Homo sapiens: one gene and its partners. The protein of the gene in region 1 purifies or fractionates together with the protein of each later gene. This does not show direct contact. Each region holds a gene or a part of one and is shown in the gene's direction. Other genes may lie near its edges. The genes, in order: PHF2, DHX57, ATIC, BMS1, ANP32B, PUM3 and DHX30.

Region 1 (4,684 bases):
CTATTGCAGGCCATCCTGGCCAGTCCAGAGGTGTGGGAGCTGGGGGTCTCCTGCTCTTTCCTCTCCCTCTATGGCCAGCTACTTCTCCCCCCGCCCCCTTCCCCAGTGCCCAGTGCTTTGGGCACTGCCCTGAGTCTGTATCCACGGGGTCACTTGTTGGGGGTGGGTGGCTGACTCTGAGGGTAGATTTTGGCTCAGTAGGAGGAAGGACCTTAATTGAGCCGCCTGCGGTGGAGCAAACGGCCCCTTGGCAGCTGCAGGTGGGCGGTGATGGTGAGGGGCTGAGGGGCTAAGGAGCCTTGTCATGGATGCTGCTAGGAGACTGAGCCAGGTTTCCTGTCCGGAGATTCTGGAATTCCGAGCAGGGGTGGCCCACATTTCCCAGCACGATGCGGATTTTGCTGAGGGAGGATGGGGAGAGAAAGAGGGTGAGGGAGGAAGGGCGGGCAGGGATGTGGCCCCTGCCCAGCGCGGATGCCCCAAGGATGCAGCGCTGGCGAGGCAGGGAAGTCCTCCTCTAGAACGCGTGCAAGTGACCCCTCAGAGCGCACCTCCGCTTCTCCTCCCCACCGTGGGGGCTCAGTTCCCTGGACACGGGGGCCAGGGTTCCCATACTCCTCGCCCCTTAGGTCACGGGCCTGGGGGGCTCAAATGCCAGGGAGCTCTCTCTTGACAGAGCTGACCAGCCCGGCCCCTTAGGTCACGGGCCTGGGGGGCTCAAATGCCAGGGAACAGAGCTGACCAGCCCGTGCCAGCGCACTCCCGGCCCGGGCTTCTGTCCTCTTCCTCTGGGGCTGAGCATCAGGGAAGTCCGCGGGATCCTGCGAGGGAGGCGGCAGTCCCCAGCCGAAAATGAGGGGAAAGAGGAAGTGGTGTCCCAACCAGAAACTCAGTGGGGAACGGAGGGAGGCAGCGCGGCCGAGGAGGAGGAACACCCCCACCGTGGTGGGGGTCAGAAGAAAGTTAGGGCCAAGTATTTGCTTGTCGGCCTTCTAGACTAGGAAGGCTCTCCTGCGGGCTCCACTCCCGCACCCCGCGTCTCTCCTTCTGCCTTGCCCGGGTTCCCCCAACTTATCTTATCCTCGGGGTCCCGCCCACCTTCTCCCCGGGGTCCCACCCCACTTTCAGTCTCAAGGCTCCCCCAGCTCACCTTCGCGCCCGCGGACCCCTGGGTCTACCTTCAGCCTTGGGGGCCCTTCTCGGCCTATCTTCCACCTTCGAGATCCCCCCACCCGCCTTCTCCCCCGGCAGGGTCCCCCCGGCCGTCTTCTCCCCCGGCAGGGTCCCCCAACCCACCTTCTCCCCCGCAGGGTTCCCCAGCCCGCCTTCCCGGCGGCGGGAGCGGCGGCCCAGGCCGGCGGGCGGAGGCGGCGCCACCCGGGGCGCTGACGTAGAGGCCGCTCGGCGGCCGGGGGTCCCTTCGGTGGGGCCGCGGCTCCCCGCCCGCCGCCCCCGCGCGTCCATTCCCTTTTGTGTCCCGCGCGCGGCCCGTCCCCCGCGCACACTAGCGCCCTGAGCCCCGCGGGCCGGCGGGCGGCTCCCGGCGCGGCCCCTCCAGCCAGCGCGCCCGGCATTGTGTGGACGCGCCTGGCCGGGAGCGCGCGCGGGGGCTGTCGTGCGCCCCCGTCCCCGTCCCCTCCCGGCCGCGGCGCCGCCTGCGCCCCGCCGCCCCCGCCGCCCCCGCGCGGCCCGGCCCCCGGCCCGGCCCGGACCGACCCGGGCAGCGCAGCGGCGGGGCCGAGCGGCGGCGCGGCGCGGCAACATGGCGACGGTGCCCGTGTACTGCGTCTGCCGGCTCCCCTACGACGTTACCCGCTTCATGATCGAGTGCGACGCCTGCAAGGACTGGTTCCACGGCAGGTGAGCGCGCGGCGGCTGCTCGGCTCGGCCCGGCCCGGCCCGGCCACCTTGCCCGACCGAGCCCCGCGCCCCCGGCTGCGCGCCCGCAGGCCCGGCTCGGGGACGGGCCGCCGCCGCCGCCGCCGCATTCCGGGCGCCCCGGTCGGGGCTGGGCCGTGCCGGGCCGCGCGCCCTTTTGTGCCCAGGGCGGGGGCGCCAAGCACGGGGCCCGCGCTGGGCGCCCCTGGCCGCCGCGCACAAAGCGAGGCCCGCGGGCCGGGAGGTGGGCTCGGGGCTCGGGGCGCGGGGAAGTTGGGGCTCCAGGCCCGGGCCGGGCCGCCTGTCAGCTGGGTCGCGGCGGCCGCAGAGGCCGGGCATCCGGAGGGAGGCCGAGGCCCGGAGCCCCCGCCGCCTCCCCCCTGCGAAGTTGCAGGAACTTTCCCCGCGCGGGCTCGGGGTTGGCCGGGCCGGGAGAAGCGGGCGCGCAGCCCGGCGCGGGTCCCGGGAGAGGCGCGAGTGGCGGGCTCCGACTCCGGCAGGGCTGGGGAGTCCGTGGGGGCTCCGGCGAGGTGGCAGCCGGCGCGCCCACCCTCCGCCGTGGCCGGCGAGCTCCCTTGGACCTTGTCCCCGAGGGCAGGACCCCTCCCGGACCCCCGCGGAGCAGCTAGACCCGGCAGGCCTGCAGGTCCGCGGGCAGGAGTGCGGTGACAGAATAGTGTCTGTGAGTTGGGTAAGGGGGGTTTGTTGTGGCTTTGCCACCTCCTCCCTGGCCTTCAGTTTTCCCCGTTTCTCTCCTCTCCGTTCCCGGCAGGAACGCCGGTTTTGACATGATCTTATGCTCCCTAAGGAAGATGGGGAGGGGGGAAGGAGGTAACGCTTGGAGACACTGAAAACCCCCGCCCTCTTGGCCCTTGCCGATGGCCATGACCTGGCCCCATGCCTAGGGCAGGTCCCTTCCCACCAAGAAGTAAATGGAGGAGGAGGAAGAGGAGGTGACAGTGTTGCCCAAACTGCTCCAACAGGTTCTCTTGCATCTGACTTTGCCTGTGGGATGTGTTTGGACCCGGGGCTGGCCAGGGCTGTATGCCCTCTGGGGCTCCAGTCCCAAACCACCGGCAGCAAGCAGCCGGGGGAAAGAGAGGGGTGTGTGGTGGTGGGTGGTCCGGGATTCTCCTTCCAGAGAGGAGATCCTCCTGCAGGTTCTAAGACTGGGTCTTCAAGACTGGTCAGTGGTGCTTAAGAGTGGGCTGTGGCCCCAAGTCCAGTCCTGCCAGTTTACATGTGGGGACCTGGGTGGCTGGGATGTGACAGGGCCTGCTATGTCTGTCAGCCCCAGTCCTGAGTCCTACCTCCCTGCTGTTAGAAGGGCCTGGGACTCTGTGGGGTGGGGATGCCCACGGAAATCTGGGCTGCCTTCCTGGGTATGCCCAGGGCTGTGGAAGCCCCTTAGAGCAAGGGAGACTGAGTGTGAACACCGGGCTCTGCCCAGAACAGGGCTGACATGCACACCCTCAACTGGCAGCCGTTGAGAAGTTCATGGCCGGGCCAAAGTGAGTGAGAGCCTCTAAGGCTCCTCATATCCAGGGATGCTGAGCTGCTGGCCCTGAAAAGCCCTGAAAGTGGTGGGGCCTCTGCCTTCTCCCCCATCTCCACCGGAGCCCTGACCTGGCGAGCGCAGTCACTCTGCTACAGAACCTTCTGGGCACCTGTGTCAGCTCCTGGCTGCTGCCCACACTCGGGGCCCAGAGTAGGGAGAGTGAGAGAACGCGAGAAGACCTTTGTCTCGCTGCTTAGGGGACCCTCTGGGAAGGGAAGGCTAGTTCTGAACTAGACTTCGAGGCCAAGGGAAAAACTCCAGGAATGAGGGGCAGGCAGGCGACAGGGGCTGAGAGCTGGCCTGAGAGCTGGTTGGTGTCATTTGCTGTATTGGCCCATGCAAAAAATCCCCAAAAGGGGGATGTCTGGGGAGGCTCTAGCTCCTTTTTTTCTTATTTGAGGTCTCTGATTGAATCCAATACAGGCAGTTGATCAGCACAGATTTATTCTCACCTATTTGGGGTGGCTGTGGGGTCTGAAAGAAGCTGTGCTTTCCCTCGGCCATGAAAGTCATTTTCTCCTGCATCTAACCAAGAGTCATCTGCCAAAGTGAACCCTACAGGGAGAAAGCCTCTGGGTGTGCCTGCTCCCCAATTGTTCTGGGCAGGTGTGTGATGGGGAGGACAGCCGTCAGGGGTTGGTGGTGTTGGTACAGCTCTCACAGCCCTGGGCAAATCCTTTGGTCTCTCAGCATCACTTTTCTTTTCTCATCAGTAAAATGAACGTGTGTGACCAGACCCCGGGGTTTCTCCACCTCCAGATAGTCTTGTATGGCCCCGGTGGTTCTTTCCTGATCTTCGTACCGCCTGTACTGTGATTTACTTCCTATTTAACATTTCAACTCTCTTTTTAAAAGTTTGAATACTTTTAAACTTTTTATTTTGAGGGGACTTTAGACTTACAAAAGAGTTCCAAAAATGGTACAGTTTCCCTGTATCCTTCTCTCCCTTTCCCTGCAGTGAACATCTTACCCAGCCATGGGACCAGTACCACAATGAAGGAGTTAACGCTGGTGCCGGGCTGCTGACTAAACTACAGGCTTTATTCAAATGTATTTAACCAGTGTTCCCCACTTAATGTCGTTTTTCTGTTCTTGGATCCCACCTTGCATTTAATCCTCATGTCTCCTTACTCTCGAAAATATTGCTTTTAAAAGGAAACTTCATATCATTTCCTGAAATAAAACATTACTGTAACTTACCATACACAGTAACTATAAAAATAAACACACAACTGTTAGAGTAAAATG
Region 2 (4,007 bases), on another chromosome or scaffold:
TAAAATATTTTGATAATCATAAGCTAATACTCCTTTTCTTTGGGGTTCATGTGTAGAGTTTACGTTCCTAGAAGCATTTACAGACCTTAATTTAATGTCTGTTCAATAGTCCCAATTTTACAAATGTTACTAAACTATTATTTGATTGTCCTTTTGATTGGAGTGCAAATTCCTAGAATTTCCCACCTCTTGGTAATAAGTCAGGAGGTTGTTTTAGAAAATACCTGAAACTGAACAACTTTTATTCTAATTAGCTTTATCACTTTTCTCATTCCATATGATTGCTTCTTTAGTTAACTAGCCCTTGAAAACTTCATTTTAGGACTTATTTGTTTTAATGTACAGATGTGGGAAAACCACACAAATTCCGCAGTTTATTCTGGATGATTCTCTGAATGGACCACCTGAGAAGGTAGCCAACATCATCTGTACCCAACCCCGACGAATCTCTGCAATCTCTGTTGCTGAACGCGTTGCTAAAGAAAGAGCAGAGAGGGTGGGTCTGACCGTGGGATACCAGATTCGGTTAGAAAGTGTCAAGGTTTGTATGCTCTGCTTATTTCCTGGTAACAGAAATTTATGGTTTTTAGGTATAAAAAGTTTTGGGGGTTAGGAGATTCATGGGCAATTTGGGATATATACTTTCAGGTTATTTTTAAATTAATGATTACCTTTGGTAATCATTTATTTAAATATTTAGAAATATTTAGAAATATTTTGGTATAAGAACTCTTATGGCCAGGCGCGGTGGCTCACACCTGTAATCCCAGCACTTTGAGAGGCCAAGGCAGGTGGATCACCTGAGGTCGGGAGTTCGAGACCAGCCTGACCAACATGGAGAAACCCCATCTCTACTAAAAATACAAAAATTAGCCAAGTGTGGTGGCACACGCCTGTAATCCCAGCTACTCGGGAGTCTGAGGCAGGAGAATCCCTTGAACCTGGGAGACGGAAGTTGCAATGAGCCGAGATTGCGCCATTGCACTCCAGCCTGGGCAAAAAGAGCAAAATTCTGTCTCAAAAAAAAAAAAAAAAAAAAAACTCTTATTTGGTTGTACTAAATTTCCTCTGTAAAGCTTTTTATTTTTTATTGGCAGAAGTCATCTAGTAAAGACTGTTTTGCTCTTGAACTTGGGACATAATCCATTTAACCAAATAAGGAGCAGACAGATTGAGAACTGTTTTCATTATTCACTGTTTTTTAATGCTTTTTATGAAAATCTTAACATTGTGATATGAAGTAGAAAGGCTTTTATTACTGTCCCTGGCAAGAAACTATGTTTAGTATGGTTTCCTATTAAATGGAACTGCTGGTGTTTCCAATATTTTTTATCACTATCCATTCAAAATGGCTTTCCAGTAATGTTTCCTTTTTTTGAAAATTTTATTAATGATTTATATTGCCCTTTCATGTGTAAGTCCTCAGCCACCAGACTGTTATACTGCACCACGGGAGTGCTGCTGAGAAGGCTAGAAGGAGATACAGCTCTACAAGGAGTTTCCCATATCATTGTTGATGAAGTTCATGAGAGGACAGAAGAAAGGTAAAACAAAGACTTTCCCAGGGAACACACACTCACCTGAATTGAAGGCATGGCAGAAAAAATTGTTTTCTAGTTCCAATTCAGTTTCATGCAGCTAGTAATGGTAATTTGCCACAAGGAAGGCCTATGTTAGAGAAGAGCAACTGCTTTCTTGATCTCCAGGGTCTGTAACACTAAAAAGGACAGCACATGCTCATCACTTATTAGATGGAGTCATCCTGTTAGGTTAGAAGGTATACTTCACACCATCCTGGGCATTATGCTAAGTTGAATACCGTACTTAGTAGAAATAACAGATGTCATGCATGCTGTGGCTGAATGTATCTTCTTCCTTGTTTATTTGGCCATTCAGTCCTGACATTGATTCATGTATTTATTGAGCCTGCATTAAATGCCAAGTGATATATTAGTTGCTGGGGATACAGTGATGAACAAGCATGTATGGCTCCCCCTCATCTCTTACAGTCCAGTAGAAAAAACAAATAATGAACAAGTAAACAAGCAAATGATTGTAAATTGGAATAAGCACTATGAAGGAATAAACGGCATGCTGTGTTTGGAGGGAGAGACCCATAGATGCTCAAAGATCATATCTCTGTAAGATGACAATTTAAATTCAAAACTGAAGTATGGCCGGGCGCAATGGCTCACACCCATAATCCCTGCACTTTGGGAGGCCAAGGTGGGAGGATCGCTTGAGCTCAGGAGTTGGAGCCCCACCTGGGCAACATAGTGAGACCATGTTTCCACGAAAAGTAAAAAAAACAAAACAAAACAAAAAATAGCCAGTAGTCATTCTACTGGGGATACAGAAAAAAAAAAAAAAAAATTAGCCAGGCGTGATGCCTCACACCTAAGGTCCCAGCTACTCAGGAGGCTGAGGCAGGAGAATCAATTGAGCCCCCAGGAGGTTGAGGCTGCAGTGAGCTGTGATAGCACCACTGCACTCCACCCTGGTCAAGAAAGCAAGACCCTGTCTCAAAAGAAAAGAAAAGAAAAGAAAAGAAAACTGAAATATGAGAAGGAATCCCAGGTGACAAACGGGGGTAAGGAAAGTATGTTTGAAGATTTTGCAGTGGGAAGGGGCTTTGTGAGTCCAGAAACAAGGAAGCCCAGTGCACCTGCTGTGTAGCAGCAAAGGGGAAAGTAGCACAGGGAAGAAGCAGCAGGAGCCAGACCTTCCAGGGCCTTAAGCACCACGAATAATAAAGCATGTGGATTTTATCTTATGAAATTAGAAGTCATTAAAGGGTGAGGCATAAAATAAAAATTCTTGCCAGACACAGTGGTGCATGCTTGTAGTTCCAGCTACTGAGGAGGCTGAGGCAGGAGGATTGCTTAAGTTCAGGAGTGCAAGGCTGTGGTGTGCTATGATTGCACCTGTGAAGAGCCACTTCAGCCTGGGAAATATCATGAGACTCCATCTCTAAAAAAAAAAAAAAAAAAAATTAAAAGTCTGAATATTTTAAGTACTGAGGAGGGCCAGGAAGATGGATGGCATTAATCATAGTTTGTCATGTGGATCATGCCCTAGAGCAGTAAAAGAAAACTAGTGGGAAAAAAGAGAAAGTCCTGTGAAAATTATGAAGTTTTCCCACAAAGTATTGTACCACAATAAATATCTTGAGAAGAAGAAAAAAAGTCTAAGTAAACTTGGTGGACTGATAGGAAAGCAGAAAATAGCTAAAAGCAAAACATTAAAAAAAAAAAAAAAAAAGGATTGGTGGCAGGCGCCTGTAGTCCCAGCTACTCGGGAGGCTGAGGCAGGAGAATCGCTTGAACCTGGGAGGCGGAGGTTGCCGTGAGCCGAGATTGCGCCACTGTACTCCAGGCTGGGCGACAGAGCAAGAAAAAAAAAAAAGGAATTGAACAGAGAAGGCATATAACCAGAAGAACTATTAGAAGAAATAATACATTACTATTATTAGTAAATAAGAAATATGAAGTAATTAGAAACTAAAGAAAGACTTTTAGATAAAAAGAATGAACCAAAAGAAAAAGAAATAATTCCTAGAACAAGACAATAATAAATATTAAATTACTATACAGAAAACATTGGAAATCTCTAAGGGGCAAATAATCTTTTTGTAGAAACTCCAGAAAACAATGGGAAAAAAAATTAATGGTAAATAATGTCATTTTGCCACTGTTGGAAATGAACATCTGAAAGAAGAAATTTTTTTAACAAAATCATTGAACAACTTGGAAGAGGAAGCCAAATAAAACATTCTCTCAGATTAATGGTATTTAAATGATTGATTTATAAAGATAAGTTTAAACTTTTAGGGAAACCTATATCCAGTATAATTTTGAATATGAAGAGTAGCTTTGGATTCTATAACATTTGTACTTCCACAAACTTGAAGAAATGAGAACATAGCACTGGATTTGGTTCCTGGCTAAAATAGGAGAAAGATTTTTATAAAACCTAAGGATCTGTAGAATATGAACGTTAAAAATTCA
Region 3 (4,007 bases), on another chromosome or scaffold:
AAATTTTAGTGAGATTTCATTTTGAATTTTATTACTGAGGAAATAGAAAGAAAATAGCTACTTCTGGATTGTGTTTTGGGATTACTATAATTCATTTATATTTTCTTTTTTTCATTTATATTTTCTAAGCTTTTTTTGTATGCAGAGATGCATCTGGGTTATTTTCCTGATTTATTTATTTATTTATTTTATTTTTATTTTTTTGAGATGAAGTCTTGCTGTGTCACCCAGGCTGGAGTACAGTGGCACAGTTTTGGCTGACTGCAACCTCTGCCTCCTGGGCTCAAGTGATTCTCTTGCCTCAGCCTCCTGAGTAGCTGGGATTACAGGTGCACACCACCACGCCTGGCTAATTTTTTTTGTATTTTTTATAGAGATGGAATTTCGCCATGTTGGCCAGAGTGGTCTCGAACTCCTGACCTCAGGTGATCCACCTGCCTCAGCCTCCCAAAGTGCTGGGATTCCAGGCATGAGCCACTGCGCCCAGCTTATTTTCCTGATTTTTAAGTCAGGAATTAAAATGGAAGTACATGCACAATGACTTTATTTAAAAGCGGTTCATAAGCTGATAGGGACATACAAAAATCAATAAGTCTTTTGTTCTTCAAAGGTGGAGTAACCTTACTGAGAGCTGCAGCCAAAAACCACGCTCGAGTGACAGTGGTGTGTGAACCAGAGGACTATGTGGTGGTGTCCACGGAGATGCAGAGCTCCGAGAGTAAGGACACCTCCTTGGAGACTAGACGCCAGTTAGCCTTGAAGGTGGGATGCACTTTCATGATATTGTAAGTTACATCCATGGAGTGCAGTGTTTGCCAGACCAAGCAGTATTCAGTTCTTGGTAGATTGCATTACCTACCAAAGCTTTGCTTGGAGCTGCTATCCTTTTGTTAAAAATGGAGAAACCAGCTATTACAGAGGTGTTCTGTCAAAAAGATTGAAAGAGAGCTGGGCGCGGTGGCTCACGCCTGTAATCCTAGCACTTTGGGAGGCCGAGGCGGGCGGATCACCTGAGGTCAGGAGTTTGAGACCAGCCTGGCCAATGTGGTGAAACCCTGTCTCTACTGAAAATACAAAAATTAGCCGAGTGTGGTGTGGTGTGGTACGCCTGTAATCCCAGCTACTCGGGAGACTGAGGCAGGAGAATCGCTTGAACCCAGGAGGTGGAAGTTGCAGTAAGCTGACATCACACCACTGCACTCTAGCCTGGGCAGCAGAGTGAGACTTTGTCTCAAAAAAAAAAAAAAAGATTGAAAAAGAATTGGAAAGGGGTAATTTGTTGGGCCATTCAGTGCTTTGCTGTCATTCATGGTGTCATCGTGTTGTGCAGCCACCACATAGCACTGAATAGTGAGGAGATGTTGTTTGCTGTGGACGTAGAAAACCATCTTGTCCCCACTTTGGAAAGTGCTGCTCGTGTCTCACAAAACTTACGCTTTTTGTAGGCATTCACTCATACGGCACAATATGATGAAGCAATTTCAGATTATTTCAGGAAACAGTACAGCAAAGGCGTATCTCAGATGCCCTTGAGATATGGAATGAACCCACATCAGACCCCTGCCCAGCTGTACACACTGCAGCCCAAGCTTCCCATCACAGGTAAAGCCCGAGCGTTCTGTGGCATGGTTTGCTGTGCCTGGAGAGTGTGTGTTTCTCTGTATTGCATCTGATGTGGTTCACATTCAGAAGATGATACATTCCGTAATGCCTCCTGTAGCCATCTGATAACCATCTGGTTTGAGACGCCATTTGGACTGAAGAGCACAGAAGTTGAGTAGTCTGGAGTTCTGAAAAGATGTCATGGGGGAGATGGAGATTGGAATGTCTCTGCCACGTAGATCTTTTTGAAGACATGAGACAGGATGGGATGGCCTGGATTTTATAGAGAAGAGGGTCAAGAAAGCCTTGGGGTAAAGGCTTGGTAGGTGTACTGTGGAGGAACCAGCAGAAGAAAAGTTGTGAAATTCCAACCTTTTAGAATGCATTTGAGAACAGAAAAGGGACTGTTTGTTTTGCACATATTGTAAGAAGCCGTTGCCTTGGAATATTGGATCTAGAAGCCCAATTGAAGTAGGCCAAAGCAGAAATGTGATGTTAAGAACTAACAACGATAAAGAGGTTTCTTGGAACAAGAAAGTAGGACTTTCTCTGGGTTTGTAGAGTTTAGAGAGGGTTTTTAAATGTGTGTCCTGTTCTGTTCCAAAGGTAGGCTGTGAGAGCCTGTCCTGCTCTGGTACAAGGGAGAGTAGGGGCAGGGACAGAGGTGAGAGTCCCAGGCATGGAGGCCTTGGAATCCCAAGCACTACCGGTGCAGCTGGCCTTGGCTGAGAGCAAGGGCAGCCTCCTTCCTGCCTGGGGCGGTCAGCATTTGGTGAGGGGGTGCAGCCTGGGCTTCCTTTCCCTGTCATCAGCTGAGAGAGCGATGGGGGAGGGGAGCAGCGTGCCAGGTGGGAGGAGAATCTGAAAGTTTCTTCACGTTTGCCGCGTTCTATTGTTCTGCCTCAGATAGATTTTTTTTTTTTTTTTTTAAATTAAGACAACGGAGTCTCGCTCTGTCACCCAGGCTGGAGTGCAGTGGCGCAATCTCTGGTTCAAGCGATTCTCCTGCCTCAGCCTCCTGAGTAGCTGGGATTACAGGTGCGCACCACAATGCCTGGCTAGTTTTTCTGTTTTTAGTAGAGATGGGGTTTCACCATGTTGGCCAGGCTGGTCTCAAACTCCTGACCTCAAGTTATCTGCCTATCTCAGCCTCCCAGAGTGCTGGGATTACAGGCGTGAGCCACCACACCTGGCCTCAGATCTCAGATACACTTTGACACTAACACTTCCCAAATCCCCACAGACACCCTGTGAAGTCCTGTAGGCTGAAGTAATCTAAGTAATTTGTTTTCTCTCGGCCTTTCTGGGCTTCACAGCACAGTAATCTTTTAAAAATGGAAATCGGATGATGTCAGACCCTACTTAAAGCCATTCCTTGGCTTTTCTTAAGCACTTTGCCCTGCCCCACAAACCCTGTGCTGCCTGCCTGCCTCCTATCTGCCCCCTCAGCAGCTCTCCCTGCGCCTGCTGCTAGCCCCTCCGCCCTGTGCCTCCAAGTGGGCCCAGCTCTTTCCACTCCAGCGCCTCTGGCTCCTTGTCCCCTTCACCCAGAATTCTTCCCTCTGCCCTTCACCGTCCTGGTTTCTTGTTATTCAGGCCTCACCTCCTCAGAGAAGCCTTCCTTGACCGCTTAGACCAAAGTAGCAGCCCATCATGCTTTCATCCCATCACCCTGTTTTGCTGCATGTGTTTCTATTCAATCTGTTCAAATTGTCTTCCCCCATTAGGATGGCAGCTTCCTTTTTTTTTTTTTTTTGAGATAGAGTTTCACTCTTTTCGCCCAGGCTGGAGTGCAGTGGTGCGATCTTGGCTCGCTGCAAACTCCACCTCCCGGGTTGAAGTGATTCTCCTGCCTCGGCCTCTCAAGTAGCTGGGACTACAGGCGCCTGCCACCACACCTGGCTAATTTTGTATTTTTAGTAGAGATAGGGTTTCACCACGTTGGCCAGGCTGGTTTTGAACTCCTGACCTCAGGTGATCTGCCTGCCTCGGCCTCCCAAAGTGCTGGGATTACAGGCATGAGCCACAGCGCCCAGCCAGGATGTCAGCTTTTGAGAGCAGAAGCTGCATCTGTTTTTGTTTGTCGCTGAATCCCCAGGGCTTAGAAGACTGCTTGGCACATTCCCTAAATGTTTACTGAATGAATAATTAGCAACCTGACATTTTGCACAAATTTTTCCTTGTAGGACTTCTTGAAACTGATTTGTCTGCTGTTATATCTGACCTATTTCCTGCTTATAGTTTATATTCTCCATTAAGATTCTGAGACAAAAAAATCCCCATGTACTGTCAGTTCTTATACTTTTCATTTTCCAAAGCATTTTCATTGGACTATATAAAAGCCTTCATTGTTCCTTAGACTGTGTGTGCGTTTCTTTTGAAGTTTAAAGTATTATTTGTGGTAA
Region 4 (4,007 bases), on another chromosome or scaffold:
TTGCTCTGGATGTTACAATATGCATATTGTAATATAGTAGTCTACTGGTACCAGTATTTACCACTTCAAAGTGTGGAAACCTGCCTTGCATTTATGTCTCTTTACCTTTTCCGCTTGTATGAATCACTGGCTTGAGTATTAGGTGGTGGTATAGTTTTTGTTTCAGTTGTCAAGTGTGATTTTAAGAACTGCGGATTGTCTCGTGTATGTATCCACATTTCTGGTCTTTCCTTTGTCCCTCCTCCCATAGTCCCATATTCATCCCTTCTGCATAAGAACTTTCTGTAGCCATTTTTTTATTTTGATTTTTTTGTTTTAATTTTTTGTATTGTGGAAATGACAGAACATATTTCTGTAGCCACTTTTTAGCATTTCTAAATTTACCAGAGACAAATTCCTATATTCTCTTCCTCTGATAATGTCTTTATTTCTCTCTTCATTTCTGAAGGGTAGTTTCATGGGATATAGAATTTGCAACCAACAGTTTTTTTGTTTGTTGGTTTGGTTTTTTTGTTTGTTTCTTTGGTTGGTTTTTTTTAAGCACTTGAAAATGTTGTGCCACTTCCTTCTGGCCTCCATGGCATTTGAGTTGGCATGTCCCTACAGGCATTCTGCCATTTTTGGTCTTTGTTTTTAGTTTTGAAAGTTTAATCAGTGTTGCTTTCTTTTGTTATACTTTGAGGTTTGCTCAGCTTCTTGAATCTGTAAGTTTATATCTTTCACTAAATGTGGGAAGCGTCAGGAATTAGTTATTTGCATGCTTTTGCAGCTCTGGTCTCCTGTGGGACTCAGATAACATAAATGCGGGGTCTTTTGTTATTGTCCCACAGGTCCGTGCAGCTCTGTTCATTTGTTTTCAGGTTATTTTCTCTCTATTGTTTAGACTGGGTGAATTCTGTTGATACAGGTTTCAGCTTCTCTGATTCTCTCCTCTGTCGTCTCCACTTTTACTCAATAGAGCCCATCTAGATAGATTTTTTTTTAATTTCTGTTACTGTATTTTATATTTCTGTAATTTCCATTTGATTCTTCTTCAGTTTCTTTGCTGACGTTTTCAGTTCTTTGTTTGTTGCCATAGGATTTGTAGTTGCTTGTTGAAGCATATTTATGCTGACTGTTATAAGTGATGAGTCAGATGGTTCCAACATCTGCCTATGTAATTTTTTTATTTTTGCAGGCAGTCCTCCTATTTGGGTTTAGTCTGTAGGTCCTGGTCTACTTTGTGGGCTGTGATTCCAATGGCAATTTAATTTCAGAGCCTTCATGGTGTTATTTTGGTCTGTTTGGCTTATATGTATCACTGGGATTCTCCCACCAGTCCCTGCTGTTGCCCACCTGAGGGAACAGGGGAGCTGCCCCAGGCTGGGCCACCTGCTGCAGCTAGGTGGGTGGGGAGTGGTGGTTGTCTTGGTGTGTGGAGCTGGTTTTCTTGTTATGGGGAAGATTTCCTTTGATCTGGGGGGACTGAGTCTGCCTGGGTTGCCTTCTATTGCTACGTTGGGAGTTGGGAAACTCTGGGCCTGGTCAACTTCCTATTGGATGAGGTCCAGGGAGACACCTGGCCACTATGCATTCCCTAGTCCTAGAGTCCCTCAGCAGCCTTTTTCTTTCCACCTTTCAGAATTCTCCTTTGATCATCTCCTGTCTATTATTTCTTAGGAGGGTATAATGTGTTATCTTCTCTAGACCAGAAATCCTTAATGGTGGTTTCAGGTTGTAACTGTGCTAAAGGGAGAATTGGCGTATTTTTGATGTTGAGTCTTTCTTTTCAAATGAGGACATATCATTATTCAGTAGATAATATTTACAACACCTACTTCCTTGGGTTGAAGAATGTGGTTAAGGCAAGGAAAGTACTTAACACAGTGCCTGGTGTGGAGAGCACCGATGAGTGTTGGTGGTGATGCTATTCCTTTTGTCCTTTGGTAGCATATTAAAGCTTTTCTTCTTTTTTAAAAAAATAAAGTTCTGGTGCATTTCTTGTTAGGTTTATTCCTATTTTATCCTTTTTTGCTTTTATTACAAATAGGAGCTTCCTATCTATTATAACTTCTACCTGGTTCTTTGGCCCTTATGTGAAAATGTTTTAATAGCCTTCTAAACATTGCTCTCCCAAATGAGTTTTAACTTGCCTATTTCTTTTATTTTCCTTTTTTTGAGACAGGGTCTCACTCTGTCACCCAGGCTGGAGTTCAGTGATGCAATTATGGCTCACTGCAACGTCTGCCTCCCGGGCCCCCAAAGTGCTGGGTTTACAGGCGTGAGCCACTGCACCCAGCCTTACTTGTCTGTTTCTTTTAAGAGTGGGAACTATAATTGAGCCCAGAGCTCCAAAAACAAATGAAGGAATGAATGAGTGAATAAGCTCTTCCCATGGGTTTGGTGTGGTTTGGGGCTCTACTCTTAATCTAAATGCTATGTTTTATATAACCTAAAATTTCCCCTAGGTGTGTTACACGATTGTGTTGTGTTGAACTTACATTGAGACTCCTTTTCACATGTGCTGGTATCAGCGTGGAGCTTTTCTATTCATTCCTTGAACTATTCGTTTGGGGGACACACATAGACCTCTGTGTCTTTCATAAAGAGTGTCCATTGGCCAGGTGCAGTGGCTCATGGCTGTAATCCCAGCACTTTGGGAGGCTGAGGAGGGCAGATCACGAGGTCAGGAGTTCGAGACCAGCCTGGCCAATTGGTGAAATCCCATCTTTACTAAAAATACAAAAATTAGCCAGGCTTGGTGGCGGGTGCCTATAATCCCAGCTACTCGGGAGACTGAGGCAGTAGAATTGCTTGAACCCGGGAGGCGGAGGTTGCAGTGAGCTGAGATCATGCCACTGCACTCCAGCTTGGGTGACAGAGTGAGACTCTGTCTCCAAAAATAAAAAACAAAAACAAAAGAGTGTCCATTGTGTATACTGGAAAAATTGAGATTGGGATTTTGATGTGAAGTGCGGAAATGTGGATTGGGTCCATTTAGTTTACCTAAACAGATGATGAAATACTAACTGTTTTACAAAGCATTCCCTAGTGCAAAGTTTTGCCTGTGTGTGTAGTGACAGGAACAGTGAGAATGAGGCTTGGAACGCAGAGCACACTGTGGGCCTGTGGTAGGTGGGGCCAGCAGCACATGCATACCTGGCTCACAGAGCAGCCTTTGGGTGTTCTTTTCCCAGAGGAGCTCTACGGTGACTTTGAAGACTTGGAAACAGGGGACGTGCACAAGGGAAAATCAGGCCCCAATACTCAGGTATGACTTTGTCGTAGCTGGCTGTTCTTGGTCATTGTGTTCTGAGAGAGGCCCACATTGAGAAATGCAAATCTTACTTGTGATGTGTGAAGATTGCAGACTGGATAGATAGATTCCTTCCTAAAGGGTGGGGATGTGGGGACCAAAGAGAAGCTTTCTTGTTTACTTGTTAAGTTTTGGATGACAGTTACTACCGTTTCTTGCCATAGTCATTTGCCAAGTCCACTGTGATTTTTCACTCACGGAAGTCTTAGCTTCTTGGACTTACATTCAACCATTGGCATCATTCTCCTTTTTTTAAATTTAAGTGTCATTTAAAAGAATGAAGTCCCTGTTCTCCCTAGTATTTCTTTAGAACAGGGTCTGGGAGCATCTGGGTGAGGGACACGTCTGTTATTTTTATTCTAGTTTGTGTTCCCAGCCAGCTTAAGGATTAGCAGCTAATTGTAATGCAGATGTAACCATTTCCTGTAGCAGTACCATGTTATTCAGAGACAAAGGTTGTGTTGTGTTTTCTTTTGTTTTATTGATAATGATAACAGATTTTTGCTAAGATTCTTGTTTAAATAGAACTTTAAAAAAGCTAATGTTTAAAGAAAAGACCTTCATAAACATACACAAAATTTTTTCTTCTGGAAATTTAAGAATGAAGATATAGAGAAAGAAGTTAAGGAAGAAATTGACCCCGACGAAGAAGAAAGTGCCAAGAAAAAGCATTTGGATAAGAAGAGAAAATTGAAGGAGATGTTTGATGCAG
Region 5 (4,007 bases), 4.4 Mb from region 1:
ATGGAAAGAGCATGCAGAGACCAGGAGGCAGGTGAGAGCATGGTGTGCTCTAGGACCCAGGAGAAGCAAGAACTGCCGCACTAGAGGTCCGAACAACCAGCTAGAGATGCAGGTGCCTCTCAGCCTCCTGTCCCCTGAGTCACAGGGTTATTATGGGTGTTTCTCAGGTTCCTGATTTGAGCAGCTGACTGTGACTCTGGTAATGATACCCAAGAGAAGGTACATGATTTTTTTTTTTTTAACTTTTTACTGTCAAAAATTTCAGACAGTGACAAAGGGTAAAAATAATAGCAAAATGAACCCCCATGTTCTTATCACTCAGCTTCAGCAATTATTGGTCATAGCTGATCTTATTTTATTCCTGCATACCCTTACCTTCTTCCCCACTCCATATAATTTTGAAGCAAATCTTAGCCATTGTATCATTTCATCAGCGAGAATTATAGTGTTTGTCTTATCTACCAGGACTTCTAGCTCTCTGATTTTATGGGACTCTATCGGACAAAGGGACTGAGCTGTAGCACATAGTAGAAAGAAAGTGACTGCAGTTCGTGGCCTTACAGCATTTGTTCTGTGAGCCAGCCCACAGATCCTCAACACTTTGTCCCCTGTGGAGCGTCGAGGATATTTAATGAATCCCTTTTGGACTATTTTTAGAAGGAGAAGATGAGGAAGACGAGGACGATGAGGATGGTGAAGAAGAGGAGTTTGATGAAGAAGATGATGAAGATGAAGATGTAGAAGGGGATGAGGACGACGATGAAGTCAGTGAGGAGGTCAGTGCAGCTGTTTTCTACCCTGCTTCCTATTTGTAATTACAACAAAAGTGGGGGTTTCAAAAAGATGACAAAAGAAAAGAAAAAACACCTTTTGAAGAAATTAGTATACCTGTGAATACATTTACAATATGAATCTGGTTAATTTAGTGTTTGTCTGGCTTTAAATAACTACTAAATAGAATGCCTACTGAACTCAAACTAGTACGGTTCCTGGCTGTGCAAGGTAAGTTCTGGCCCTCTGGGGGAAGGAATGAATTGAGTATTCAGTGTGGTGAGAAAACTGGACATGTTGAGAATTGATGGTATGTCTGTTCCTTCATTGAATTGTAGGGAAGTTTATGTTTACCAAGTCTAAACTTTTTCTTGTATATTCAGTGTAATTCAGTAAATATATATCTGCTATGTTAAAGAGTTGGGAGTACAAAATGAAATGAGATTGTGGTCCTGCCCTGAAAGAGCACAGTCTGGTTTATGAAATACCCAATAATAGAGGATCCCTGAGGAAATAAATGCTATACGAGGGCAGGAGAAAACAGTGTCTTGACTTTGACCCTCAAAGAGGTTTGGGAAACAGGCAGACAACATTAGTTGTTAACAAAACGCATCCTCTTTTGTAGTATAAAAATAAGGCTTGGGGTTTGTGTGATGTCATTAGGTGTATGATTGACATTAAAGTTCTGAAAGAAGCTTTGTATATGAATGGGATATAGAAATTTTTGTCTAAATCTGTTTTGAAATTTGAGATTTTAAGATGTTTTCTTGAATTATCCAGAGTTATATACTAATTAAACATCTAGCAAATGAACTGCTTGCTTCTAAAAAAAATTTTTCTTAGAAAAATTATAAAGCTCGTTAAGGAAAATCAGTGGGTCTTGGTACATCAAAGTAGATAAAAATAACATTACAGTTTCCTGCTTGATTGATATTGTTGCATTTATTTGTACTTCTTAGTTTGGCAGAATTTGTACTATATGCACTTTTCAATTTGGCAGAATTAATTTAATGTTATGCTGTTTGCTATTCTTTAGGAAGAAGAATTTGGACTTGATGAAGAAGATGAAGATGAGGATGAGGATGAAGGTGGGCCTAATGCATGCATTTTGATCATTCTCAGTTAAAAATTAGAGAAAAACATCCATTATTTAGAATATGATACCACTGAGAAGAAAATAAAATACTCTTGGCTCTGGTGGTTTACACATTCACATTCTCGTTTCTATCGTCCCATCAGTGTGTCTGTGCTGGTGCAGGCTCCCTGCTGCTACAGCAGTTATTCCTGTCTCATGGCAAGGGTCCTGTTGGTCTTCAGTCCTCATGGGGTTTTTTTCGGGGTGGTGGTGGTGGTGGTGGTGTTTTGAGACGGAATCTCGCTCTGTTGCCCAGGCTGGAGTGCAGTGGCACGATCTCGGCTCACTGCAAGTTCCGCCTCCTAGGTTCAAGCCATTCTCCTGCCTCAGCCTCCAGAGTAGCTGGGGCTACAGGCGCCTGCCACCACGCCCAGCTAATTGTTTGCATTTTTAGTAGAGACGGGGTTTCACCGTGTTAGCCAGGATGGTCTCAATCTCCTGACCTCGTGGTCCACCCGCCTCAGCCTCCCAAAGTGCCGGGATTACAGGCGTGAGCCACCACACCCGGCCTGTTGTTTTCTTGAGATGGAGTCTTGCTCTGTCGCCCAGTCTGGAGTTCACTGGTGCAATCTAAGCTCACTGCAGCCTCCACCTCCCAGGTTCAAGGGATTCTCTGCCTCAGCCTCCTCAGTAGCTGGGATTACAGGCATGCACCACCACACTTGGCTAATTTTTGTATTTTTAGTAGAGACAGGGTTTTGCCATGTTGGCCAGCCTGGTCTTGAATTCCTGGCTGAATTCAAGTGATCCACCCACCTCGGCCTCCCAAATTACTCGGATTACAGGTGTGAGCCACCATGCCTAGCCTGTTCCCCATGTTTTAAATGTGTTTTTAGGACCAGTCATTTGGTTTACTGTCAAGTGTGAGTTTCTGTGTTTGGAGTTCTTTCATTTTTTAAAAAAAGGCTTTAATAATTGAACCATCATTTTCAGGATATATAAATAGATGTAGCAGTTTCCCAGTTTTGTCAGTGTTAGTCCTTTCCCCACTACAACCAAGACAAATGAAATAGCTGTTACTTATTTAATACTGTTGAAAGTATGCCAGCCTGGACAACATAGACCCTGTCTGTACAGAAAATTAAAAAGTTAGCTGGGACCGGGTGTGGTGACTCACGCCTGTTATCTCAGCACTTTAGGAGGCCGAGGCAGGTGGATCACCTGAGGTCAGGAGTTCGAGAGCAGCCTGGCCAACATGGTAAAATCCTGTCTCTACTAAAAATTAAAAAATTAGTCAGGCGTGGTGGCACGCACTCAAACCCAGGAGGCAGAGATTCAGTGAGCTGAGGTCATGCCACTGCACTGCAGCCTGGACAACAGAGCAAGACTCTGTCTCAAAAAAAAAAAAAAGTTAGCTGCACATGGTGGTGCACACCTATAGTCCCAGCTACTTGGGAAGCTGAGGTGGGAGGACTGCTTGAAGTTGCAGTGAGGCTATGATAGTGCCACCGCACTCCAGCCTGAGTGACAGAGGGAGACCTTGTCTCAAATAAAAAGTCTCATGGTTGTGTCTCAGAAAATCAGGTGTTCACTGTGCTGTTGGCTGATGTTTTCTCAGCATCCACTTTGTCAAGCTCTCAATTACATTTACACTAGATATTACCCTGGTTAGGACCTGGTCACTGCCTTTAAGAACCTGTATGATTGGGAGGCCGAGGCGGGTGGATCATGAGGTCAGGAGATCGAGACCATCCTGGCTAACACGGTGAAACCCCGTCTCTACTAAAAATACAAAAAAATTAGCCGGGTGTGGTGGCAGGCGCCTGTAGTCCCAGCTACTCGGGAGGCTGAGTCAGGAGAACGGCATGAACCCGGGAGGCGGAGCTTGCAGTGAGCCGAGATCAAGCCACTGCACTCCAGCCTGGGCGACGGAGCCAGAGTCTGTCTCAAAAAAAAAAACAACCTGTATGAAATATGATTTAACATATAGTTAATTTCATTAAAATAACCATGGATTTTATTAGTTGAAAAAATTGGTCTATATGTAAGTCTCTGTGTCTCGACTACATAATACTCTTAAGAATTTCCTTTTTAGTTAATATTAGTTTGCTACAATTTGAGTCTTAATGATGTTCCATACTATGTTTTGTGTGTTATTTAA
Region 6 (4,007 bases), about 91 Mb from region 1:
CCCCTACTGAGTTAAAACAGTTTGGGCTTTTCATTACAATGTCTGGAAAAAAGTGACAGATCATGAATTCATGTCTTGCGGCAAGTGGCAGCTCTGATGGCTAGTGTGGCAATCAGTATAGCAGTAGAGCTGTCACTTCTCACCTTACCTTTAAGAATGGGGACCTGGGGCTATTTTTCACTAAATTTTTTTGTAAAAGAGAAGCCTTGTGATAAATATTAAAGAAAAAAATAACATATGGAATAATCTTTTTCATTATTAAAAAGTTGATGTATAGTTGAGTTTATGCCAGAAAAGTAGTCTGGCTTAATGTCCAGTGGTTTTTCTCCCTCTTAATTAAAATGTGCTGAGAACCCTAAAATCTGCCAGTTTGGGTCTGATGTGTTTGTCTTGTCGTATTCAGCACCAAATGAGTTTGTCCTCCTGCACGTCTAGCTGTTTTGATTCTCTTTTACTGGATAGTAGCCACCTTAAAACTTAGTAGTTTTCAAAACAATGACTTGATCAGGGTCTGGTGGAGCCTGCCCCTCTATGCTCAGAGTCAGAGTCATCTAGGGCTGCTCGGTTTGTGGTTGGAGTGTCCACTTTTCGCTTAGCTCACTCACATGGCTGGCAAGTGAGTACTGACTGTTGGCTGGGGACCAACAGCCTCAGTTTCCCTTTCTAGGCTGCTTGGGCTCCTTCACGAGATGGTGGTTGCTTTTTTAAGAGTGAGCATCCCAAGAGGACAAAGTAAATGCGTGGCACTTCCATGATTTATCCTTAGCAGTCATTTAATGCCACTTTCATCATACTGTCTTGGTCAAGTCAATCACAGAGGCCCACTGTGATTCAAAAGAAGACATGGATTCCCCCTATAGATGGGGGAGTGGCTGCATTCTAGAAGAGCACACAGGACAGGAGATATTATTGTGGTCAGCTTTGGAAAACAATTTGCCTCACTAGCTGAACTCTGTCCCTCTTTAGCAGGTACCATGAAAGGCTGAATAGCCATAGGCCTCTTGGCTTTTAAAGAGTCCTTACATTCAGGTATCTTTGAATGAATTATATAGTACATGCTACCTGACTATGATGTTTGCCTTCAAGATAGGTTGTCCCTACCTCCATCTGCACTAAATCTTAGCTATCAGAATTTCTCCTTTGTCCAAGCATTAATTGCAAAGTGAAAAAGATAATACCACGACCTTGGGAATCAAATACTAGAATAACGGGAGAAAAATGGTATTTTTGATTTGTGAGTATGTAAGCGTTGTAAAGAGAAATGCCAAGTTTAAGCTAGAACAGTCATTTATCAACCACTGTTGAACACGTGAACACTGTGTTATGTTCATGGCACCTTGTGAGTGAGCATTTCTCCATGAGGAAGAACTTGATTTCAACCAAGCATGAGGTGCTACTGTGAAACATTTATTTCCTGAATAGCTTTCAGGTCAAAGTTAAATCATTAAATAATACAAAGAAGTGCAGACATAACCAAGTGAGTGTTTTATTAGAATTCATAGTTTATCTTGAGTAATTACTGCTAAACATAGCTTAGGTTTTGGATCAGAGTTAAAAGAAATGGCTCTTTTAGAAATGCATTAGATAAACCTGCACTGGAATTTTTTGTGTTAAAAGGGAGATTGGGTGAAAGCTACTTTTGTTAGCTTTTTTGTTTAAAAATATTTGCAGATTTAAGGGCAGTAGAGAAGGGGGTAGGGAGTATATATCTTATTATGTGATGTTCACTAAGCTTCAGTATATTTTACAGGTTGTTTTGCAAAAACACTTGTAGAGCATGTTGGTATGAAGAACCTGAAGTCCTGGGCTAGTGTAAATCGAGGTGCCATTATTCTTTCTAGGTATGTATAACATGTGCCCTTCTCTGAGCAGGGCCTGGTCATGCAAAAGACACACTTCCTTCACGTTGATTTCTCAGTTCTAATATTTGTTCTCAGTAGTCTAATATTACTCCCAGTCACTCATGGTCTAGACAAACATACCAAATATTAGAAAGCAAATGTAACTCTTTCAGTCAGTCCTTAGGAATCTTTTTTTTTTTTTTTTTTTTTTTTGAGATGGAGTCTCACTGTCACCCAGGCTGGAGTGCAGTGTCACGATCTCAGCTCACTGCAGCCTCAACCTCCTGGGCTCAAGTTTTCCTCCCATCTCAGCCTCCTGTGTAGCTGAGACTACAGACGCATGCCACCACACCCAACTAATTTTTATTTTTTTATTTTTTGTAGAGATGGGGGTCTCCCTGTGTTGGCCAGGCTGATCTCAGACTCTTAGGCTCAAGTAGTCCTCCCATCTTGACCTCCGAAAGTGCTGGGATTACAGGCATAGCCATTGTGCTTGGCCCTTAGGATTTTTAAACTACCATCTTTTTGACAAATTATAACATTCACAAGGTATCAGGTGGCTTCACCACATTTATGGTTTTGACCAAAACATAATTTTTTTTTTTTGAGATGGAGTCTCACACTGTCGCCCAGGCTGGAGTGCAGTGGTGCGATCTCAGCTCACTGCAAGCTCTGCCTCCTGGGTTCATGCCATTCTCCTGCCTCAGCCTCCTGAGTAGCTGGAACGGCAGGTGCCCGCCACCACGCCCAGCTAATTTTTTTTATTTTTAGTAGAGACCTGGTTTCACCGTGTTAGCCAGGATGGTCTCGATCTCCTGACCTCGTGATCTGCCCACCTCGGGCTCCCAAAGTGCTGGGATTACAGGCATGAGCCACTGTGCCCAGCCTGTATTTTTTTTAATGAATAACTTACATCCCTGTGAAAACTGTGACAATGTTGACTTTTAAATCATGCCTAATTCTACATGTAATTTCCTTCATTGTTTTAAAAGATTGTAAAAGGATTGGAAGAGCATTTGCTACTGAAGTGTGTGTGCTATTTGTTGATATCTGACTTAAAATGAGAAAAAAACAGTGATGAGCTATGGCCTCTTTTGTATTATTCTCTGAACTTAGTTGAGTTTATAATCAATCCACAAATCATTGAAATTTTCCATACATTCTCTGTGCAGATGAAAACCTTCTGTTAAGAGCATTCATTTAAAAAAAGATTTGTATGTTGCTTTGAAGCAATTACTGTTGATTTTTCCCCTGCTGTGTTATTAAGGTTTGGGAAAACAGATACCAACCCTAGTTTGAATTTCTCAAGATACTTTACTTGCAACATGCTATGCAACTTAATCTATGTTGTTTGTAAATGTTATTTTAAGTGTTTCTTCAACATATACGTGATCTGGTACACATAATACTCACACAGGAGCATTCATAGCTTCAGGTATGTCAGTGTCTCCAAATATATAAGTGTTACAGATCATTTTGTTCATTTCTGCTTAAAATTAGTTAATTTTCCAGTTGATGTTAAACAGTCAGAATTCGTTAGCTGATACATGAACTTTTTCATTACAAATTTTTTTACCAGGCATTTGGAGTGTTAACACCTACTGACACATTCTTTCATTACACTCAATTAACTGGAAATTTCAGCAATGCCATGAAATTAATTTATAAAGGTTGTTCATCAATCAGAACTCCCATTAGGTGGATTTCAAACATAGGAAGGATACTATAGGTTTATTATGGAGCACTACTCAGAATTGGAACAGGAGCAGAGGAAATATTTGAAGTTCTAAATGGAAGTTGAGCTATATATAACAATAATACAAAAAAATTGTTTTTGTAAATTTTGGGTGAAAAGAAAATCAGCCTTGTATGTTGGCTGAAAAGTAACTCAGAGAAGCAGAATTCTCTAACATTTGGGAGCATTGGCACTTGACAGACTGCCTGGGTTCTAGCTTAGTGCATAGCCTTGGGAAAATTATTCAGCTTTTCTGGGCCTTAATTTTCTTGGTGGTAAAAAAAATGAGATTAATGATAACCCTATGGTCGTTATGAAAACTAGATTGGATGATGCATATAAAATGCCTAGCATTATGTCTAATATGTGGCATATGCTCAGTAAGCAATAACTTACTATTATGTGTTGTATAACTGTGTGTTTAGCCAAGA
Region 7 (4,007 bases), on another chromosome or scaffold:
ATTTGTTTGCATCAAAGCTAGGCATCTTTGAGAGTTCCATGCCCAGTTCTGGACTAGGGGCTGAAGTGGGTAAACAGATGAAAAACCACGGCTGCACAACACAACTTAACGGTGTAGCTGGACACGGACCAGGCCGACTGAGGTGTAAAGATGGTATCAATCCTTAAAACGTCCCTTTTCCCCTCCAGGGTTGGGGTCTGCTAGGTCCCCGGAATGAGTTGTTTGACGCAGCCAAATACCGAGTGCTAGCTGATCGCTTTGGCTCCCCTGCCGACAGCTGGTGGCGTCCGGAACCCACCATGCCCCCTACTTCCTGGCGGCAGCTGAATCCAGAGAGTATTCGACCAGGGGGACCTGGGGGCCTATCCCGCTCTTTAGGCCGGGAAGAAGAGGAGGACGAGGAGGAAGAGCTAGAAGAAGGGACCATAGATGTTACCGACTTCTTGTCCATGACCCAGCAGGATTCCCACGCTCCACTCAGGGACTCAAGGTACAGATGGAGGATGGGGATGCAGCAGAGGCTGGCTGTGCCTTGACACGGGGATGGGCGAATGTTCTCTGCTAGCTTTCTCTGAGATGGGAGCGCCCCTGCCTCACATTTCAGCCTGTGTGCCCCATCACTCAGTGTGTGTCTGCCCATTCTTGGGGGACAGCCAGCTGTGGTCTTCTATGTGGCTGGGCTTTTGCAGAACAGCAGCATGGAGCCCCTGCTCTCTGCTATCTTATCTGTGTGAGGGAATGGAGGGAGCAGTCCCCATGCAGTGTGGCTGTGGGAGGAGCAGAGACGCCCGGTTTCCCATCCATTTCATGCCTTCTGCCCTTCTGGCTCCCTGCTGCAGCGCAGCGTCCTCACCCCTACATCGCAGAGCCTCAGGGAAATTGGTCCAGGAAGAGAGAATTCTTTCAGTTAAACTTTTGGTCCTCCCAGGGGGAGTTCCTTTGAGATGACAGATGACGACAGTGCCATTAGGGCTCTGACCCAGTTTCCACTTCCCAAGAACCTTCTGGCCAAGGTGATTCAGATTGCAACGTCATCCTCCACAGCTAAGGTGAGTTGGGTCTCCTAGAAGTTTGTGTGGGGGCCGTTTACTTGGTCATGTCTGGTGTTCCCTAAAGGCAGGTTTAGAGAGGGCTGAGGGGGTGTGTTCCTCCAGCCCAAACCTAGGCCAGGTGGAGGAACTCCTGCTTGGGAGGAAAAGCAGCAGGTGTGATGGAATGGAGGTCAAGCCTCAGCAGCACAGGGAGTGGGCTTGGGGGCCGCAAGAGCAGAAGACCCATACCTCTTCTGGGCGGTGGATTGTCAGTGGGGAAGGGTTAGAGGTGTGGGTCTTGGTGAGGTATGAATTTCTCTCTTGCTGCCAGGCGAAGGGGCTTTGGTCATGAAATGCCTAACCTTGTTTTTACTTTAACTCGTTGCTTTGAATTTTGTCCTGCTTGTCTCTTTAATCACCTAGCCTTGCTTCTCATGTAAAATAAGACTCTCTCTAGCTAAGAAAGCCGTACAAACCCCAATTGACCCCTTAATTTACAAGACACTAAGGGCTCCTCACCCAACCCCCTTTCGTAAGGAGTTGGCCTGGGTAAACAGATCCTCAGCATTTCAAAGGAGCCTAATTAACTGATAAGGTACGAACACCAACAATATATGAAGTTCCCAGGAATTTTCTCCAAGAGATAACAACATAAAACCTTGAGTTCGTGTCTGGCGTAGACCCTATATCTAATTATAATGAAAGATTTAGAATCTTGCACCTGGTACTGTTGCTCTTCTTGTAACCATTTGTCTTTTAAGTTGTTTATCACTCTGTAACCATTTTGATTCTTTTGATTCTTGCATGTTTTTACTTCTGTAGAATTATTACATTTAAGTCCCCCTCCCCTTCCTAAACCTAAGTATAAAAGTTAATCGAGCCCCTTCCTCGTGGCCGAAAGAATTTTGAGCATTAGCTGTCTCTTTGGCCGCCGGCTTAATAAAGGACTCTTAATTCGTCTCAAAGTGTGGCGTTTCCTTAACTCGCCTAAGTACAACAGTTAAGCAGAGCTTCTGTCCAGGTGCAGGGTCTTTTTGCTCCCGCAGGATGTGCCTGGTTTTTAGCTCATGCTGACAGCTTCAACCCACAGCTGCCACGATGTTGCCGAGATGACAGTGGGCTAGGAGGGCAGGTGATGGCATTGCCCAAGCACTGTCTTCTGCAGTGGAAGTCGAGGTATAGCAGGAGAAGCGAGCCTGGGACTAGGGTGCCTGAGCCCATGGGCCTGCTCCTGGCTATGCAGCAGCACCTCTAGCATGGCTCACGCCTGGCACCTGCTGAGATGGTGGCTCATTCTGTCTCTGGGCTCCTTGGCATTCTGAGAATGCCCCAAGTCTCTTCCCATTCCCTACATTTCTGTAACCATCTCTCTTGCCTTCCATGTAGAACCTCATGCAGTTCCATACTGTGGGCACCAAGACCAAGCTGTCTACACTCACCCTGCTCTGGCCCTGCCCCATGACCTTTGTTGCCAAAGGGCGCCGCAAAGCAGAGGCTGAGAATAAGGCGGCAGCCTTGGCCTGCAAGAAACTGAAGGTGAGTCCAGGAAGGTCCTGGGTGTGGTGCATGAGAATGTCTTGAAGCTCCCCTCTGCCAGTGGCAAATGGGTCCCATTTTCTAGGAAATGAAACCACCACAGCAGGCCTTTTGCCTGGCACAAAGACAGCTGGTATGCAGGCCTCGCTTGTAGGCCCTGTGGCTGTTGCCATGGCTTTTCCAGAGGCCCTGTGGAGATACTTTGCCCGTGACCCAGCATTTTCCACACTGTTGGCCTGAACCTGGTGAGGCCGGGAGGAAACTTGCTCATTGTTCTGAATAGTATAAAGCCGGGAGGAGCCGGGCCTGTTTTGAGAGGCAGACCTGGTGTCCAGTATGATCCTGATAACCCGGGTTTTGTGGGCAGAATGAATAATGTGACTTGTGACTGCAGTGATGATTGAGGAAGCAGTCAGGATCAAGGTAGAGACAGTGTGGCAGACAGCTGGCAGTTCTCTTTTTTTTGAGACAGGGTCTCTGTGGCCCAGGCTGGAGTATAGTGGCACGATCATGGCTCACTGCAGCCTCGATCTCCTAGGCTTAAGCGATCCTTTCACCTCAGCCTCCTGCATAGCTGGGACCATAGGTATGCACCACCACTCCCAGCTTATTTTTAAACATTTTTTGTAGAGACAAGGGTCTCACTGTGTTGCGAAGACTGGTCTTAAAATCTTGGGCTCAATCAGTCTTTCTACCTTCACTTCCTAAAGTGTTGGGATTGCAGGCGTGAGCCACCGCTCCTGGCCATGGCCGTTCTCTTGAAAGGGGCTGGTGGAGTTAGCTGATGGCACAGTAGTGGGAGGGAGTTGGGATTGTCTCTGACTGCCTGAGGAGTTAGTAATCTCAACCCATGTTGGTGGAGGTTTAGTTTGCAGACCAAGATAGAAATGGGCCTGCTTTACTCTGAATGGTCAGGTGCACCATTTCATGGGTACAGTTGGCTCTGGGAACCATGTTTTAGTTACAGCTGATGGTGAGAGGTAACAAGAACCTGGAGAAAGACGAGGAAGAGGGGACAGGCAATTGGTGAGATAAAGAGGGCACAGATATGCTACCTGTGACTCGAGGGCAGAACAAGGACTGAGTAGAACTGGAGGCATCTGAGCTTTGGCCTGATGCACACGCACTGTGAGCAGAAGCACCTTGGCATGGTAGGGGCCTGTCTGGGAAGGAGCAAGCTTTGCAGTGGCTGGAGGGCCATTTGTCAGTGAGGCTGGTGGGTAAAACCCATGAAGTCTGGGGAGAGGGCAGAAGCCTGTTCCTGCAGCAAGGAGCTTGTGTTGGCACCTCCTGTGGTATGAGGACCAGATTCCTGTCCTTTAGGTCCTTATAGCTGATGGTGCCAGCACGCCCAGAGGCAGGGGGTTGGCCCCTGTTGGGGGAAGACTTCTTTAAGGAGGGAGTGTTTGATCTGGGCTCCGAAGGGTGAGCAGAGTCCAG

What was found.
Region 2: the proteins of PHF2 (region 1) and DHX57 purify together in Homo sapiens (affinity purification with mass spectrometry, with the first as the bait; one large-scale study listed by BioGRID). This does not show direct contact.
Region 3: the proteins of PHF2 (region 1) and ATIC purify together in Homo sapiens (affinity purification with mass spectrometry, with the first as the bait; one large-scale study listed by BioGRID). This does not show direct contact.
Region 4: the proteins of PHF2 (region 1) and BMS1 purify together in Homo sapiens (affinity purification with mass spectrometry, with the first as the bait; one large-scale study listed by BioGRID). This does not show direct contact.
Region 5: the proteins of PHF2 (region 1) and ANP32B purify together in Homo sapiens (affinity purification with mass spectrometry, with the first as the bait; one large-scale study listed by BioGRID). This does not show direct contact.
Region 6: the proteins of PHF2 (region 1) and PUM3 purify together in Homo sapiens (affinity purification with mass spectrometry, with the first as the bait; one large-scale study listed by BioGRID). This does not show direct contact.
Region 7: the proteins of PHF2 (region 1) and DHX30 purify together in Homo sapiens (affinity purification with mass spectrometry, with the first as the bait; one large-scale study listed by BioGRID). This does not show direct contact.

Annotation. Positions count from the first base shown.
Region 1 is NC_000009.12:93,575,012-93,579,695, forward strand, and holds the start of PHF2 (lysine-specific demethylase PHF2), read left to right. Parts: upstream 1-1,572; 5' UTR 1,573-1,762; coding exon 1,763-1,860; intron 1,861-4,684. UniProt on the Homo sapiens protein: Lysine demethylase that demethylates both histones and non-histone proteins. Enzymatically inactive by itself, and becomes active following phosphorylation by PKA: forms a complex with ARID5B and mediates demethylation of methylated ARID5B.
Region 2 is NC_000002.12:38,851,591-38,855,597, reverse strand, and holds part of DHX57 (putative ATP-dependent RNA helicase DHX57), read left to right. Parts: intron 1-345; coding exon 346-541; intron 542-1,419; coding exon 1,420-1,544; intron 1,545-1,632; exon of another isoform or gene 1,633-1,717; intron 1,718-4,007. UniProt on the Homo sapiens protein: Probable ATP-binding RNA helicase.
Region 3 is NC_000002.12:215,325,377-215,329,383, forward strand, and holds part of ATIC (bifunctional purine biosynthesis protein ATIC), read left to right. Parts: intron 1-610; coding exon 611-762; intron 763-1,445; coding exon 1,446-1,602; intron 1,603-4,007. UniProt on the Homo sapiens protein: Bifunctional enzyme that catalyzes the last two steps of purine biosynthesis.
Region 4 is NC_000010.11:42,813,423-42,817,429, forward strand, and holds part of BMS1 (ribosome biogenesis protein BMS1 homolog), read left to right. Parts: intron 1-3,176; coding exon 3,177-3,250; intron 3,251-3,895; coding exon 3,896-4,007. UniProt on the Homo sapiens protein: GTPase required for the synthesis of 40S ribosomal subunits and for processing of pre-ribosomal RNA (pre-rRNA) at sites A0, A1, and A2.
Region 5 is NC_000009.12:98,010,614-98,014,620, forward strand, and holds part of ANP32B (acidic leucine-rich nuclear phosphoprotein 32 family member B), read left to right. Parts: intron 1-657; coding exon 658-776; intron 777-1,807; coding exon 1,808-1,859; intron 1,860-4,007. UniProt on the Homo sapiens protein: Multifunctional protein that is involved in the regulation of many processes including cell proliferation, apoptosis, cell cycle progression or transcription.
Region 6 is NC_000009.12:2,805,648-2,809,654, reverse strand, and holds part of PUM3 (pumilio homolog 3), read left to right. Parts: intron 1-1,750; coding exon 1,751-1,841; intron 1,842-4,007. UniProt on the Homo sapiens protein: Inhibits the poly(ADP-ribosyl)ation activity of PARP1 and the degradation of PARP1 by CASP3 following genotoxic stress. Binds to double-stranded RNA or DNA without sequence specificity. Involved in development of the eye and of primordial germ cells.
Region 7 is NC_000003.12:47,840,689-47,844,695, forward strand, and holds part of DHX30 (ATP-dependent RNA helicase DHX30), read left to right. Parts: intron 1-188; coding exon 189-490; intron 491-928; coding exon 929-1,049; intron 1,050-2,417; coding exon 2,418-2,567; intron 2,568-4,007.